Homo sapiens: one gene and its partner. The protein of the gene in region 2 interacts with the protein of the main gene of each other region in a pairwise test. Each region holds a gene or a part of one and is shown on either strand. Other genes may lie near its edges.

The links. The genes of interacting proteins can lie anywhere in the genome.
Region 1: the proteins of LIMK1 (region 2) and BMPR2 interact in a two-hybrid assay, tested with the Homo sapiens proteins (one study listed by BioGRID).

The regions. Positions count from the first base shown.
Region 1 is NC_000002.12:202,560,879-202,568,909, reverse strand, and holds the end of BMPR2 (bone morphogenetic protein receptor type-2 precursor), read right to left. Parts: 3' UTR 1,161-8,031; downstream 1-1,160. UniProt on the Homo sapiens protein: On ligand binding, forms a receptor complex consisting of two type II and two type I transmembrane serine/threonine kinases.
Region 2 is NC_000007.14:74,085,696-74,093,803, reverse strand, and holds part of LIMK1 (LIM domain kinase 1), read right to left. Parts: intron 8,057-8,108; coding exon 7,960-8,056; intron 588-7,959; exon of another isoform or gene 555-587; coding exon of another isoform or gene 505-554; intron 1-504. UniProt on the Homo sapiens protein: Serine/threonine-protein kinase that plays an essential role in the regulation of actin filament dynamics. Acts downstream of several Rho family GTPase signal transduction pathways.

The DNA.
Region 1 (8,031 bases), on a different chromosome or scaffold from region 2:
GATTATTTGATGATGTGAAGCACAAACACAATATTAGGCCAATAAAAATAGCTGTTTTGGTACCTGATAGCTTTCTGCACCTTTAAATTACTCCATGAATATTCCTGGTTACTCTAACTACTGAACTGTTTTTATTATTTGTTTATTTTTTAGACGGAGTTTCACTCTTGTTGCCCAGGCTGGAGTGCAATGGTGCGATATCAGCTCACCACAACCTCTGCTTCCCGGATTCAAGCGATTCTCCTTCTGCCTCAGCCTCCCGAGTAGCTGGGATTACAGGCATGCACCACCACACCCAGCTAATTTTGTATTTTTAGTAGAGACGGGGTTTCTCCATGTTGGTCAAGCTGGTCTCGAACTCCTGACCTCACGTTATCCACCTGCCTCGGCCTCCCAAAGTGCTGGGATTATAGGCGTGAGCCACCACGCCCGGCCAGTTTTATTTTTATTTTTGAGTTTCTCTTGCCACAAGGAGAGCTTGAAAATTGCAGTTCAAAGCAAAACGTAAAATGCGTTACAATCTCACTTGCCAGTTCTGTGACTGGGCAGAGTATTTAATTTCTCTTTCAGTTTCTTCATTTATAAAAGGGGGATAGTAATACATATTATGTAGGATTGTTGTGAGAATTATCAACAATGTATGTAAAATAACTAACACAGTGCCTGGCATATAATACATGGTCAGAAAATAGCAACTATTATACTAAATTTAGTTTTTTTTTTTTTTGAGACGTAGTCTCGCTCTGTCGCCCAGGCTGGAGTGCAGTGGCGCGATCTCGGCTCACTGCAAGCTCCGCCTCCCGGGTTCACGCCATTCTCCTGCCTCAGCCTCCCGAGTAGCTGGGACTACAGGCGCCCGCCACCGCGCCCGGCTAATTTTTTGTATTTTTAGTAGAGACGGGGTTTCACCGTGCTAGCCAGGATGGTCTCGATCTCCTGACCTCGTGATCCACCCACCTCGGCCTCCCAAAGTGCTGGGATTACAGGCGTGAGCCACCACGCCCGGCCTATTTATTTTTTTTTATTTTTTATTTTTTGATGTATCATACTGAGTTATGAAAGTCATATTAGATAGAACATTTACTATTCTAGTGCAAACTCCCTAATTATCATACTAACAATTTCTGGTGACCTCTTAAAATAAAAAAACACAATTACTATTGTCATTAATATGATCTTTAATAAACGGAATAACGCACCATTTTACAGCAAGCCTTTTTAAACCTAAAGAACTGCCTTAAAATCTCCTTCTCCAATGTCTCTGTATCAATACAATCTTTTTATTTAGGTTTATATATATCAAAGCATTTACTTACACTTATTCATAGAAAACTCTTTAGTGGCTTAATGTCAGCTTTCATAGTGGCATCCATAGATAATACAAAAGAAAAGTGATTTGCTTTATTTTATACTCACACTGATCCATCAAACACAACTTATACAGCATAGCAAGGCTTCAGACAGCTTATACAAAAGCAAAATAACTGAAATTATTCATAAAGTCATATATGATAGTCTATCTGTAATGTAAGAGCAAAACACACCAACAAAAGATACCCGTTAACAAGAAAGAGGGTTCTGAGGAAGTGCGAGTATTTTCTAGCCTTTCTTTTTCCGGAAAAGCATCCTCAGAAGTGAATACTCCGTAGCTTATGTTTCTCCTGTCCATTCAGAAAAAGCATGACAGCTACGCATCTCCATGTTTCAGCTACTACAACACCCTAAGAGTTAGTGTATTTTACAATTATCCATGTATCTTTATTTGAAAAATTATCAGCAAAAAACTGAGGATGATTCCAGCTTACATAAACACTGATACAATATAATCTCTATGGAAATGAAATAACAAGGCATACAAAAATTGCTTAAATAAATAAATGTGGCCAGAAAAAGAAAAGCCACAGAAGTCAAGCAATTCAGTGTTAAACTGGGACCTATCTTTGAATTGCATCTTTTAGTAATTTTTTCTTACTGTTAAGCTTCTTTAAAAATATGTTTCCTTTACATACTTACGAGGATTGGTAACAAGGTGAAGAGCCTGAGACAAGAGACTGGTTACAGATAACTTCCTAGGATTTTAAGTATATAGCACATCAATTTAGAGCTTGAACTTGTCTGATTCAAAGAAAAATTCTGTTTGACAATGTGATAAATACAGGTTATTTTCTCAAAACCATCCAAGCTATTACTAAAGTTATAAAATATTTAGTTCACTTTTAGAAGGCTTTATAACGTTAAATTGTCTCTTGAGAAAATCCTATCTGACAGGAACTACTTTACCAAGTTCCCTTATTAAAAAACAAACAAAATGAAACAATTTGTCCCATATCATGTATGGTCATTTGACCAAAGAACAGAAATGTAAGTCGTTTTAAGTCAGTGCTTCAACTCTAAAGGCCTAAATTTGTTGCAACATGTAGCCAATTAGTTGAGTCATTCCCTCTGTTCAGTAATTACAGAACTGGGCAACTTTTTATAATTAATGAAATCTGATATTATATCTATGTGAAAAAGTCAAATAAGATGAAACATTAAATGAACTGTGCAACAAACACTTTAAATATTCAACTGGATCTAATTGCTTACTTGCTAACAATTGAACTTTTTCAGTGTACAAAGGGATGAAAGGGGCCCTGAGTTTTTAAGTAACATGATGTCTGTAGAATGCATCTAAAACATGAAGATGTTTCTGAAATCTAAAGGTATAAATAAAATGGATAAAACCCACATGTTGCCTTTTAAAACTGAAAACCAAATCAAGTTGTAGTTTCAAATACAGTAATTTGCTTAAAAATTCAATCATAAACTGGACACCCTAATGATGTGATTTTGTTCTGAAGATTCCTTCTCTCTTACCCAGATTTTAAAATGGGTTTCAAGTTGTTTTAAAAATGTGTATGTTCACAATGTTTAATAGTAACACTACAAACATCACAGTAATAACAGAATTGGACTTTTAAAGATACGATAGATTTATTTTGAGCCTAGTTTTAATATACAGCATAAATTCTTCTGAAGTACTTTCAAATGTATCTGCCATGAGATAAATTTCTAGGTTTTTCTCTATATGCACACTCAACTTAAATCAGTCACCTAAAAGTTAAATGAAAGTTGTATAGTCCAGTCTATGTTGCAAAATAATAAGTATTTCAAAAGTGGTCTACAAAAATGTCCATAGATAATACCTGATTAATGTAGGGTTTGCTTTTGAAAGTTAATCTTGCATTTAGTGTTTAATATTTCATACAAAAAATATGTAAAAGGTTGTGGCTCAATCATAAAACTAAGCTTGCTGCAATATGTTAAAAAATTTTAATGGCAAAATGATATACAATTCTGTGTGCATGGCTTTTTAGTTATAACTAATGAGAATATAAAATCATAAAATTCCACAATAGAAAATGTTAGATAACACAAAAATTAAGTGCCGATTTGCTGGTGGTCTGATGGTTGAATCCACTTTCAAATAGAAACATCTTAACTCTCGATTCTATCAAACTATCAAACTATTACTTAACTGGAGTAATGAATTTGAATATAAAAGAAAATATAATTCTATATTCTTAAATATAAAGTCATTAAAATAGGACTGAGGAGAAGAGCTTAAGCAATTTTGTCTGAAGAATTGAGACTTAAGTGTTCATTGAGAGGCCTGAAGCATACTGAAGACTAAGAATATTGGGGATGATGACCAACTGCTCTTTTTTGTCCTACTGGGTAAAAGAAAAAAATTTAAAATCAAAGAGGAGGGAGACAGAATAGATATGAAGAAAACTTTCCTGACACAGACTACAAATCAGATAACTGAGGTTTGGAGTAAGTCAGACATAAACTATGAGGTGATTTTTTTTGTTTTTTTTTGAGATGGAGTCTCACTCTGTAGCCCAGGCTGGAGTGCATTGGCGCGATCTCGGCTCACTGCAACAACCTCCGCCTCCCGGGTGCAAACGATTCTCCTGTCTCTGCCTCCCGAGTAGCTGGGACTACAGGCGCGTGCCACCATGCCTGGCTAATTATTTGTATTTTTAGTAGAGATGAGGTTTCATCGTGTTAGCCAGGATGATCTCAGTCCCCTGACCTCGTGATCCACCGTCTCGGCCTCCCAAAGTGCTGGGATTACAGGCGTGAGCCACCGCGCCCAGCCTAACTATGAGGTGATTTAAGGAAAGTAATGGGAAGGTGCACTTAAATGCCCTGTGATTCCCTCTTTTCTTTATGTTAATCTGGAAACTTGTAGAAAAGCCTTCTCTTGATAACAAATTTTATGTAACTAGCTCAAACAGTGATTTGCCAGATTTACTTAATCAAGGAATATATTTAGGAGGGAATCATGCAAGATAGTTTTGGGTAAAGTTTGCACAGTTCATAATCTAAAAGTTAAAATGCAACCTTATATGCTGGAGAGTAAACTGCCAGTAACAGTACATTTAGAAACATTGCATTCTGAAAAAGTCTCCTGGGGTTTATGTGGGAGTGTTACAATTTCCAGAATGACTGGTCTAGATAATCAACATGTGTGTCCGGATTTTAACTTTAAGAAGTTAGATGGGAAGATAAAGCAATATATGAAGCAATCTGTGAATAGTTACATAATAACCTGCACATAACAGGTAGTAAGTTCAACATAACTTTATAAAATGTTGTATGGAAATATAATCTCAAATTCTAGGAGTTAATGATCTCCAATAAAATATTCATGTCCATAAATATGAAAAAAGGAAAAGCTCATTGAAATATTTTTCCATTTTAAATGACTTTCAGGAGGCACTTACAAAGACTAGAAATTTCAGTGTAACAGCTACAGCCTACCAATTCCACTTGGCTGTAGAAGTCAAATTTGAAAATAATTTAAATAAAAATACTTGCCAATGTTTTGTGATAATTCCCACTGAAGCCCACACTTACTTGAGTGTTCCTTTCTCTCTTTAAATATTTTCACATTCAGAACCAATGCACATTTTCTGGAACAAGTGGATACATGTAAAGAAGCTATACTAAACTTTTATAAAAAGGACATTATATCCTTGTATCCTTCCTATATCCTACTCAATTAGTTCTATAGATTAGTAAATTTTCTAAAGTTATTAAAAGCAGAAGTTTTGAAGATGGATTCAAAGGATTGATGAGACTGAAATTCTTTGTTAATTCCCCCAAATCTGCTATGGAATCAATTTAGGGAAAGGTCTCTGTTCCCAAAGCTATCTTAACTTTTTCCGTAAAATTTACTTTACCATTAGTTCTGCAATGTAAGAAATGTTAGGAGTGAAGTGAAATGATTTTAAGATTCATGATGGAAGATACAGGATTGAGTTTTGTCTAGAATTAGTAATTATTTCTCAAGCAACAATCAGCATAGATATGTCTACATATCTCATATTTGCCTAACTTCCCAAATCATTAAGGTATGTGGTTTGGCTCATATACAAATGAAAATTGTGCCAGAGTATAGTGACTGAATTTTTATGTTTTTTTTTTGAGGCAGTCTTGCTCTGTCGCCTAGGCTGCAGTGCAGTGGCGCGATCTCAGCTCACTGCAACCTCCACCTCTCGGGTTCAAGAGATTCTCCTGCCTTAGCCTCCTGAGTAGCTGGGACTACAGGCGCCCACCACCACGCTCAGTTAATTTTTAAAAAATATTTTTAATAGAGACGGGGTTTCACCATCTTGGCCAGGCTGGTGTTGAACGTCTGACCTCATGATCCACCCGGCTCGGCCTCCCAAAGTGCGGGGATTATAGGCATAAGCCACTGCACCTGGCCTGAACTTTTTAAATAAACGTTAGCCCATTACACATCCTGTCATATGGCATGTAGGCAGTGTGGTATGGATGAAAGAGATGTGGAGAGAGGCAGACATAGACTGAAATCCCAGCTTTGTCTGTTACTAGATGTGGACCTTGGGCATATTACTTAGCTTCTCTTAGCTTCAGTTTCCTCATCTGTAAAATGGGAATATTAATTACAATGCTCATATGGTTGCTCTGAGGTTTAAGAGAAATAGCATATGTATACTTCAGCATTCAGTATGTGCCTTCTTGTAACTTCCTACACTGGTAACAGTGGGTTTTTTTTTTTGCCAATTATGCATTTAGAAAGTTTTAAGAATTTACAATTAAATCATTTTTGTCTAAACGTAATTCAAATCAAGTTCTTTCAGTGACCTAATTCTGGTATACAGTTAGGATTTTGTTAAGGGAACTAATATTAGACTTTACCTATTATGATGCTTTTAAGGTTACATTACCATCCAGTGAAATAAATTTTAATATTTTTAGTTGAATGATCTTTTATTCAAAAGGACCCCACTTTTCTACATATAAAACTTTGTGATAGCAGTTAAATGTCAACTTTAAGAAGCATTTATTATCAGATGAGTATTAGCATACAATTAAGTCATTTAAAATAATTTTGCTTGCTTGTATATTACAGATTTTAAAAGTCTGATGTACAATTTAAAATTTATAAAAATGATATATACTTTCCACCTTTCCTACTTTTTCAGGAGTTTACTAAGAAAAACTGGTGAAAGGAAATTATTTGTTTTAAACATGCTTGAATGAAATAGTAAACTATTCAGTTATTTTAATCTGGCATATTAATTTTTAAAGCATTTTATCATAATTTTCCCAATATTAAAAAATGTTGGACAACCTACAATCAACTGGCCCAAATACAAATATAGCAGAACGTAAGATAACTCTTCTGGCAGGAAAAGATCAGTTAGACCTCAAATGGTCATTTATCCTCAATGCTTCAAATTGGAGAAGGAACATAATTTATTTTGATTCAAAGTTGTCCTACAAATATTTGAAAAGAATATCCTAAAATGCATGTGAAAGATATTTAAGGGCAAGAGAACTAAGTGAAAATGTACTAGGAAAGATAAAAATAATTTGTTAATAGAAGAATAATAACTGTGAAAAAAATTACGTGCCAGAAGACTGAAAATAGATTAAGGGGCTGAATAAAGAAAAGGGCCAATAAAACACAAAACGTGGAAATCCTGGGCACTAACAAGATATTCTTAATTCTATGAATCCAGAACTGTGTTCAGCAATCCAGCTGAATAAATGGTAGGTATAGTAACATCTAACTTGTAAGATCACAGCACATGGCAAATGAGAAGGCTTATATACAAGTAAATCACAAATATTTTGGACAGAAAATTGGGAAATTTAGGCTGTCTTTAGCTAAGTGATAAGATAGAGGAATATGAGTGAGAAAATATTGTTCAGGAGATAAAAACATAAATCAGAAATTTGGTGATTTGTGTTTTCCTCTTAACCTTTTAATCCCTGGAACTATCTTAGAACTAAACTATATAACATTTACTAAGTACTCTGATAATCGAAAAAAAAGTAAAAAAAAGTGAAATCATCAGTTTGCAAATTAATAGAAAATAATTTCTGTTTAGAAAAAAGTCCATTATTTGACAGAAAGTGCTTTATTTAAAAAAAACATGCAGAGGTTGTTTTAGAGGAGATTATAAGTAATGAAAGAAGCAAAGGGCTTTTAAAAATAATATGATTTCAAGTCATTTTATTACTAAAAGGTATACTCTAATGTAAATAATAAATGTTGCTCACATATCAAAGATAATGTGAAAAACTGGCAAAAGGAAAAATTATGAAAATAGGATTAAGGAAGATAACACAATTTTGAAAAGAGAGAAGTTTAGTCTCAGTTTGCTCAAAAAAGGTAGGTTTGATAGCAGCCCTTCCTTCATAGGGACTTGGCATGCCACTTGAATGATTTTTCCTCACAGTGTTTTAGGTCATGGGAAGAGGAATCATTTTCAGATAAAGTCACCAGTCTTTGCTTGGGAACAGGGTAAAAGATACTATAGGTTCAGAACTATAAATTACTTCTGAAGTTATAATAAACAGTAAGGGTAATTTTATGAGTCAAAGATGGCCTATTCAGAGAATGAAGGCTATAACACTATTTTGTCTTAACCATTTATTTACCTACTTAAAAATTCCATAAGTGTAGCTCTATAAGCTTACCAATAAAAATGTATTTCTTAAATAAAT
Region 2 (8,108 bases):
TGCGCCAGGTACTGAGGCTGTGCAGAGCTGCCCTGGGGACAGCCAGAGAGGAACTCCCTCGGGGGAGAGCCATGCCCTGGCCCCACTCCAGGGTACCCCTCCCTGAGAGCAGGGTAGGACAAAGCCAGGCTGGGGCAGGAGAAGGGGGAGGCACCCGGAGGGCATGAAAGGGGTGCTCTGCAGCCCAGGTGGCTGGCTGGGCTGGGAGACAGCGGTGGCTTCCATAATGACAGGAGTGGAGAATCATCGTTCTACCCAGGGCCACATCCCTGGCCACCAGGTGTGAAGAAACAGCAGGTGGAGGACCGGCCTCATGGGGAGACTGTCCTGGAAGGACCCACAGCTTTGGCAGTGGCCTGCTCCCAGGCTGCAGCCGACAGTAACCAAGGAGTTTCAGTTCTGCCCCAGAGCCTGGACCTAGGTGGGTCGGCTTCCAGCCCCAGGCCTTACACCAGGGGCCCTGCCTGGAGCCCAGGACAAGTAGGGAGGGGGATTCCCACTTACTTAGCCCTCTGGAGGAAGCGGCGTCTTCTTGGGGCTGAAGCCAACAGCATCCTCTGTGGCTACACTGGGGGCTCTGGAGGTCTAAGGGAGGGCAGGGGTGGCCAGACCAGCTGCTTCCCCATCCTCCCTCAGGGGCTCAGGATTGGAGGCTGCAGAGGGTGGGGCCAGCGTGGCTGCAGCGCACAGGAGGAGGCTGCAGCCGCGTGGGTGCCAGGGGACTTGGTCTGAGCCTGCAACAGGAAGTGGCTGAAGCACCCTTTGCCTGGGCTTTGGTGCGGGTGGGGAGCGAGCGATCTAGGCTTGGACCCCAGGCAGGGAGCCTGTGGCCCGTCCCTGGCCCTCAGTCCTGAACACACGCTGTAGGCTCCTCAGCCTCGGCCCTGGCAACGGCACTGAAGGCCTCAGGCTTCTCTGGGGACAGGGACAAGCTCAAAAGCAGCTGCCTCTTCCACTGCTGCCCCCAAGGGAACAGAGGTCGACTTCCTATGGACAGTTTGTCTTCGCCAAAAAGGTCCCCTGAAGAAAGGGAGGTTGCATCCCGCCGCTGCTCCAACCCCACAGGCCAGCAGCATGCTCAGCCCTCCTTGCCCAGGGCCAGCCCACCCAGCTGCCAAGGAGATGCTACCAGGGATGCGGCAGCCCTGGGGGTTGTGCACAGGAGGCTTCCTGGAGGGGACCTCGCAGAGGCAGTATGTGAGCCAAAGGGAAGCCTGGACCAGTCCAAGCCTGGTCATAACCTTCCGGGAGGCAGGGCCTGCAAGGGGCTGGGAGGTCAGAACACAGAAAGGGGCAGGCCCCGGAGTGACAACCCTCAGGGCTAATACCAGAGGTCCCATGGGCCTGCAGCAATTGTCCCACTCTACAAAGAGGGGCAGCATCTGGTCCCGGCTGAGCCCTCCAGCAGCCTGCAGGCCCCCATCACAGCACTTATGACCCTGTCTGTCCTATCAGCGTGGGACTTCCTCAAGAGCAGGGGCCAGGGGACAGGAGCAGCTCTCAGATGCTCAGGTTATGACATTCAAAGATGCACAGCTGCCTGTGCGCAGTGGCTCATGCCTGTAACCCCAGCACTTTGGGAGGCTGAGGTAGACAGATCGCTTGAGGTCAGGAGTTTGAGGCCAGCCTGGCTAACATGGTGAAACCCCGTCTCTATTAAAAACACAAAAATTAGCCAGGTGTGGTGGTGGGCGCCTGTAGTCCCAGCTACCAGGAAGCTGAGGCAGGAGAATCGCTTGAACCCGGGAGGCGGAGGTTGCAGTGAGCTGAGATCACGCCACTGCACTCCAGCCTGGGCAACAAAAGCGAGACTCTGTCTCAAAAAAAAAAAAAAAAAAAAAAAAAAAAAGCTGTACAGCCAACGGCACCTTCCACGGGGCCCACAAGGCTCTATGCACCCCTGGCCACTGACTGCACTCCCGCACGCTGGCTTTGTGGTCCTCAGTTGTGCCAAGCACATTCCCACCCCAAGGCCTTTGCACATGCACCGGCCCTACCCCCGACATCCTCTAAACACTGCTCCCTTCAATTCTGTCCCTTAAACATCACTTCCTGAGAGTGCTGTCCCCCAATACCTGACACTACATTTGTTCACTGAGTGTCTTGCCCACTAGAAGGCAGGGACCCTGTTGGTCTGGGAGGTGTGGGACTAAGCTGTGGTTACACTGTAGGCTCTGAAGCCAGGCTGCCTCGGTTCGAGTCCTGATTCTACTCCTCACGCGCTGTGAGACTTTTGGCAAGTGACTGAACTCTGCACCTCATTTGTAAAATCGCTTTTTAAAAATTTGAGACAGTGTCTCGCTCTGTTGCCCAGGCCAGAGTGCAGTGGCGTGATCACAGCTCACTGCAGCTTCGACATCCTGGGTTCAAATGATCCTCCCATCTCAGCCTCCTGAGTAGCTGGGACTACAGGTACGCACCACCACGCCTGGCTAATTTTTTTGTAGAGATGGAGTCTCACTATGTTGCCTAGGTTGATCTCAAACTCCTGGCCTCAAGCAGTCCTCCTGCCTCAGCCTCCCAAAGTGCTGGGATTACAGGCGTGAGTTACCAGCCTTGGCCTTAAAATCGCTTTAATATTGCCGGGCACGGTGGCTCACGCCTGTAATCCCAGCACTTTGGGAGGCTGAGGTGGGCGGATCACGAGGTCAGGAGATCGAGACCATCCTGGCTCACACAGCGAAACCTCGTCTGTACTAAAAATACAAACAAACAAAAAAAAATTAGCCGGGTGTGGTGGTGGGCGCCTGTAGTCCCAGCTACTTGGGAGGCTGAGGCAGGAGAATGGTGTGAACCCGGGAGGCAGAGCTTGCAGTAAGCCGAGATTGCGCCACCGCACTCCAGCCTGGGCGACAGAGCGAGACTCAAAAAAAAAATCGCTTTAATAAATAAATAGCACCCCCTTACTGGGTTGTTGTGAGAGGGGCCTAATGCAGAGTGGGCACGCCATAATTATTTGCAAGTGACTGACTCAGGGACCCTAGGAAGTTCCACTGGGAGGGGCATGCAGAGGGGCCAGGAAAGTGGAAATCACTGGCCACCTCCCCAGTGGGGCTGGAGGCTGCAGACCCCTCATGGCCTTATCACATTGCCCCTGCCCGAACACCTTCAGAGGGGTGAGGGGCCCTGGAACAAAGGTCTCAGTGCATGAAATGAGGTCTGGGCCGGGCCCAATGCCTCAAGCCCAGGGCCCGAGGGAGACTAAGCAGAGTCTAGCACCTTGGGCATCCCACTGAGAGCCAGCCTGGCTGTGGTCAGCCATGCACCCAGGTGAGCAGTGACCCCCTCTGAGCTGCTCTGCTCACTGTCACGCGGTGAGGACCACCAGCTTTGGGGACTGTTGGGAGTATCACACCCACAAGCCACGAGGTAGAAGCCATGGCTCTTACTTCTAGTGGATCTTTCCCCATATTGAGACTTTTTTTTTTCGAGATGGAGTCTTGCTCTGTCACCCAGGCTAGAGTGCAGTGGCGCGATCTTGACTCACTGCAATCACTGCCTCTCGGGTTCAAGCGATTCTTCTGCCTCAGCCTCCTGAGTAGCTGGGATTACAGGCGCCCACCAACAGGCCCGGCTAATTTTTGTATTTTTAGTAGAGATGGGGTTTCACCATGTTGGCCAGACTGGTCTCAAACTCCCGACCTCAGGTGATCTGCCTGCCTTGGCCTCCCAAAGTGCTGGGATTACAGGCGTGAGCCACTGCACCTGGCTTCCTTCTTGAGTTTCACTACACCAGGGACAGCACAAACATGCCTCCTCTTTACTGCCCTGACCTGGGGACTCACCCCTCTCCTGGTGAGTGATTTGGGACAGGCCACTCCAAAGCCAGGTACACCCATCCTGTAACACGGCTTCCCTCCTGTGGCTTCTGTGGCTCTACTCCTGACCCTCTCTCCATCACCCAAGGCTCCATCTCCCCCCTCACCGCAGACACAGGGGTCCCCAAAGTTCTTCCCTTCATTCGTCTTGGCCCTATCACAAATCCCACTCACCATCTCAGGGCCAGCTCCGAGGCGGCCGTTTTTTCTGACTTTCCTACCTCCAACTGGACTCAGGCTCCCATGGCTAGCTCTGGGCAGGACACAGCCACCATGGATAGCCCATGTCCCCTCCAGCTCAACACAGATGAGCATGTCTCCTCCCCAACATGACCCCCAATTCCATCAGAGTCAACAAACCACCAACTCCCCAGTGCCCAGGTTAGAAAACCAGATGGCTTCAGGTTCCACCCTGCCATTCGCCAGTGCCCATGCCCTCCCCGAAGCCCCTGTCTTTTTCTTTCTTCCTTTCTTTCTTTTTTTTGAGATGGGATTTCACTCTGTCACCCAGGCTGGCTTGCAGTGGTGTGATCATAGCTCACTGCAACCTCCACCTCCCAGGCTCAAGCAACCCTCCCATGTCAGCGCCCTTGAGTAGCTGGGACTACAGGCACCACCACCATGCTCAGCTAATTTTTTTGTAGAGACAAGGTTTCACTATGTTGCCCACACTGGTCTCAAACTCCTGGGCTCAAGAGATCCACCTGCCTCCGCCTCCCAAAGGGCTGGGATTATAGGCATGTGCCACCGCCAGCCCCTGCCTTTCCTACTCTGTGGCGATGTGGAGTGAGAAGGTTTTAGTCCCAGCTCTAGATGTTACAACCTTCAGCGAGGCACTTGATTGCATGGAATCTCTGTTTCTCCCATGCAAACTGGGCACATACAGTCCCTCATAGAGTTATGATGAAGATTTAACAAATTAGCATGAAGAGTGCTCAATGCATGGTAGCCAATATGACAAATACTCACCAAAAACTGTCCCTTCTGCCTGAAATTCTCTCCATCCTCAGTCACTGTCCCAGGTCAGGTCCTATGAGCTCAGACCCTTGAGTTACTGGGACAGTCCCTTCCCTGCCTAGATACCACCACCGGCCCACTGGGATGGCATTCTTCAACAGCATGTCACCCCAGCCCCTCCCTGGCTTTCTGCCGACTCCCTTCTATTTTTTTTTTTTTTTTTTTTTGAGATGGAGTCTCGCTCTGTCTCCCAGGCTGGAGTGCAGTGACGTGATCTCAGCTCACTGCAGCCTCCGCCTCCCAGGTTCAAGTGATTCTCCTTCCTTAGCCTCCCGAGTAGCTTGGATTACAGTCATGTGCCACCATGCCTGGCTAATTTTTGAATATTTAGTAGAGACGGGGGTTTCACCACGTTGGCCAGGCTGGTCTCAAGCTCCTGGGGTCAAGTGATCTGCCTGCCTCGGCCTCCCAAAGTGCTGGGATTACGGGGATGAGCCACCACCCCCATCCTGACTTCTGAAACTCCTTATCTTGGCATTCAAGGCCCTTCACGAATCGGTCTCAACTTTGTTTCTTGTTGGATCCCTCAGCTTATTCTGTTCCTTCCAAGGGAACTGTTCCTGTTCCCTCAGCAGTCCGCACCATCCCACCGCTGTGCAGATGGTTTCCTCTGCCTGTTGAGAGCCCTCTTGCCCCCCGAAGGCCTCTTTCTGAGCACCTGATGCAGAATCCCAGGGCATGCTGTCTGTCTCCTTTCAGCCACACTGAGTGTGTTCATTTCACTCACTGGCTGTGTGACTTTCATCAAGAGAATTAACCTCTCTGTGTCCCAATTTTCTCTCTGGCAAAACAAAGACAGCACTAATATCTAACTATGCAAAGTACTTAGAACAGGGGTTGTCCCTTACTGAATGTTAGAAAACGTTAGACGTTATTCCTAAAAAAGAAAAAACAGGCTGGGCATGGTGGCTTATGCTTGTAATCCCAGCACTTTGGGAGGCTGAGTCAGAAGGATCGCTTGAACCAGTTGGAGCTGGAGGCTACAGTGGGCTATGATCTCACCACTGCACGCCAGCCTGGGTGACACAGCAAGACCCTGTGTAAAAAAAAAGAAAAGAAGAAACAAAAAAACAAACCGAGGCCAGGTGCAGTGGCTCATGCCTGTAATTCCAGCATTTTGGGAGGCTGAGGCGGGCAGATCACTTGAGGTCAGGAGTTCGAGACCAGCCTGGCCAACATGGCAAAACCCTATCTCTACTGAAAATACAAAACTTAGCCGGGCGTGGTGGTGCACACCTGTAATCCCAGCTACTTGGGAGGCTGAAGCAGGAGAATCGCTTGAACCTGGGAGGCGGAGGTTGCAGTGAGGAGGGATCGCGCCACTGCTCCCCAGCCTGGGCGACACAACAAGACTGTCTCAAAAAAACCAAAAACCAAAAAATAAACCAAGGCAGAAGCCTAAAATAAAGTCCTAGTGGTGGATGTCTTGACCCCTGCTGGGCATCCCAGAAGCTTCACCTTCTACCCTTTTATGGAGTTTTCTCCCCTGAACCTTGCTGTTTGGTGACTATGCCTGTAATTCTCTCCCACACCATTTGTTTTTCTTTCTTTCTTTTTTAAAAATTGAGACTGGGTCTCGCTCTATTGCCCAGGCTAGAGTGCAGTGGTGCGATCATAGCTCACTGCAGCCTCCACCTCCCAGGCTCAAGTAACCCTGCCACCTCAGCCTCTTGAGTAGCTGGGACTACAGGCATGCGCCACCACGCCCGGCTAATTTTTTGTATTTTCAGTGGAGACAGGGTGTTGCCATATTGCCCAGGCTTGTCTCGAACTCCTGAACTCAAGTGATCTGCCCACCTCAGCCCCAAAAAGTGATGGGATTATAGGTGTGAGCCACCACGCCCCACCTCCACTCTACTTTTCTACCCAGGAAATCTCACATCCTTTGAGACCCCTGCTCTGGCCCTGCTCTGGCTCAAGGCAGGTAGACCCCTGCTCCTGGCTTCTCAGGATGGTCCTACTGGGTGACCTTCAGGTCCTCATGTACTCTTTATCCTCCGCCACAACCCTGACCCTACTTTCTTCCTACCTGTGGGTGTGTGTCTGGACACTGGGGCTGGTGTGACTGGGTTATGCATGTTCGCAAGCAGCCTGGAAGACACTGAGGGTGGCCTGGTTTCCCTTAAGGCCTGGTTTGTCTTCCCTCCCTGCAAGAGCATGAACACCCAGAAGGCAGGAGGGACATTCCTTCCAACTCTTCCCCCTGTCTGGGTGCCAGCAGGGGGCTGAATTGCAGGCACTGGCTCAATTGGAGGTCTCTCCCATCCTCTCTAAGATTTAGATCTCAGAGATCTAGGATGACAACAGAGGCCAAGGCGTTAGCTCACGCCTGTAAGCCTAGCACTTTCGGAGGCCAAGGCAGGAGGATTGCTTGAGGTCACAAGTTCAAGACCAGCCTGGGTCTCAATAGTGAGACCCTGTCTTTACACAAAATTTAAAAAATTAGCTGAGCATTGTGGTGTATACCTATAATCCCAGCTACTCGGGAGGCTGAAGTAGGAGGATCACTTTAGCCCGGGAGATGGAGGTTGCAATGAGCCGAGATGGCACCACTGCACTCCAGCCTGGGCAACAGAGCAAGACCATTTCGAAAAAAGAAAAATACATAAAAGAAAATAAAATGAGGCCAGGAGCGGTGGTTTATGTCTGTCATCCCAGCACTTTGGGAGGCTGAGGTGGGAAGATCACTTGAGGTCAGAAGTTTCAGACCAGCCTGGCTAACATGGCAAAACCCGTCTCTACTAAAAATACAAAAATTAGCTGGGCGTGGTGGTGCACGCCTGTAATCCCAGCTACTCCAGAGGCTGACACAGGAGAACTGCGTGAGCCCAGGAGGAAGAGGTTGCAATGAGCCAAGATCGCACCACTGTACTCCAGCCTGGGTGACAGAGCGAGACTCCGTCTCAAAAAGAAAAAAAAATAGATAAATAAAATGACAACAGGAAGGCCTGTAGGGATTTTCTAGTCAAAACACCTCATGTCATAAATGGTAAATTAAGGCCACGAAGTCACAATAGGGGACGGCACCAGGAGGCATATCCCGGCCTCCCCCATTCCTTGACCAGCCTGTCCTCTCTGGCAGGCCTTGTTTAGGGCAACACAGGCCCTGGGCACCCCACCCTACCTGAAGCAGTCTGCGTGCCAGTCCGCGTTCAGGGCCTGGAGGTACTGGCCATCATAGATCCTCTGGCCGCAGCTTGCACACACGGGCAACTCGCTTCCTGCAGGGTGGGAAGGGAGTTGGGAAGCATTCTCAGGAAGTGTGATCTGGTG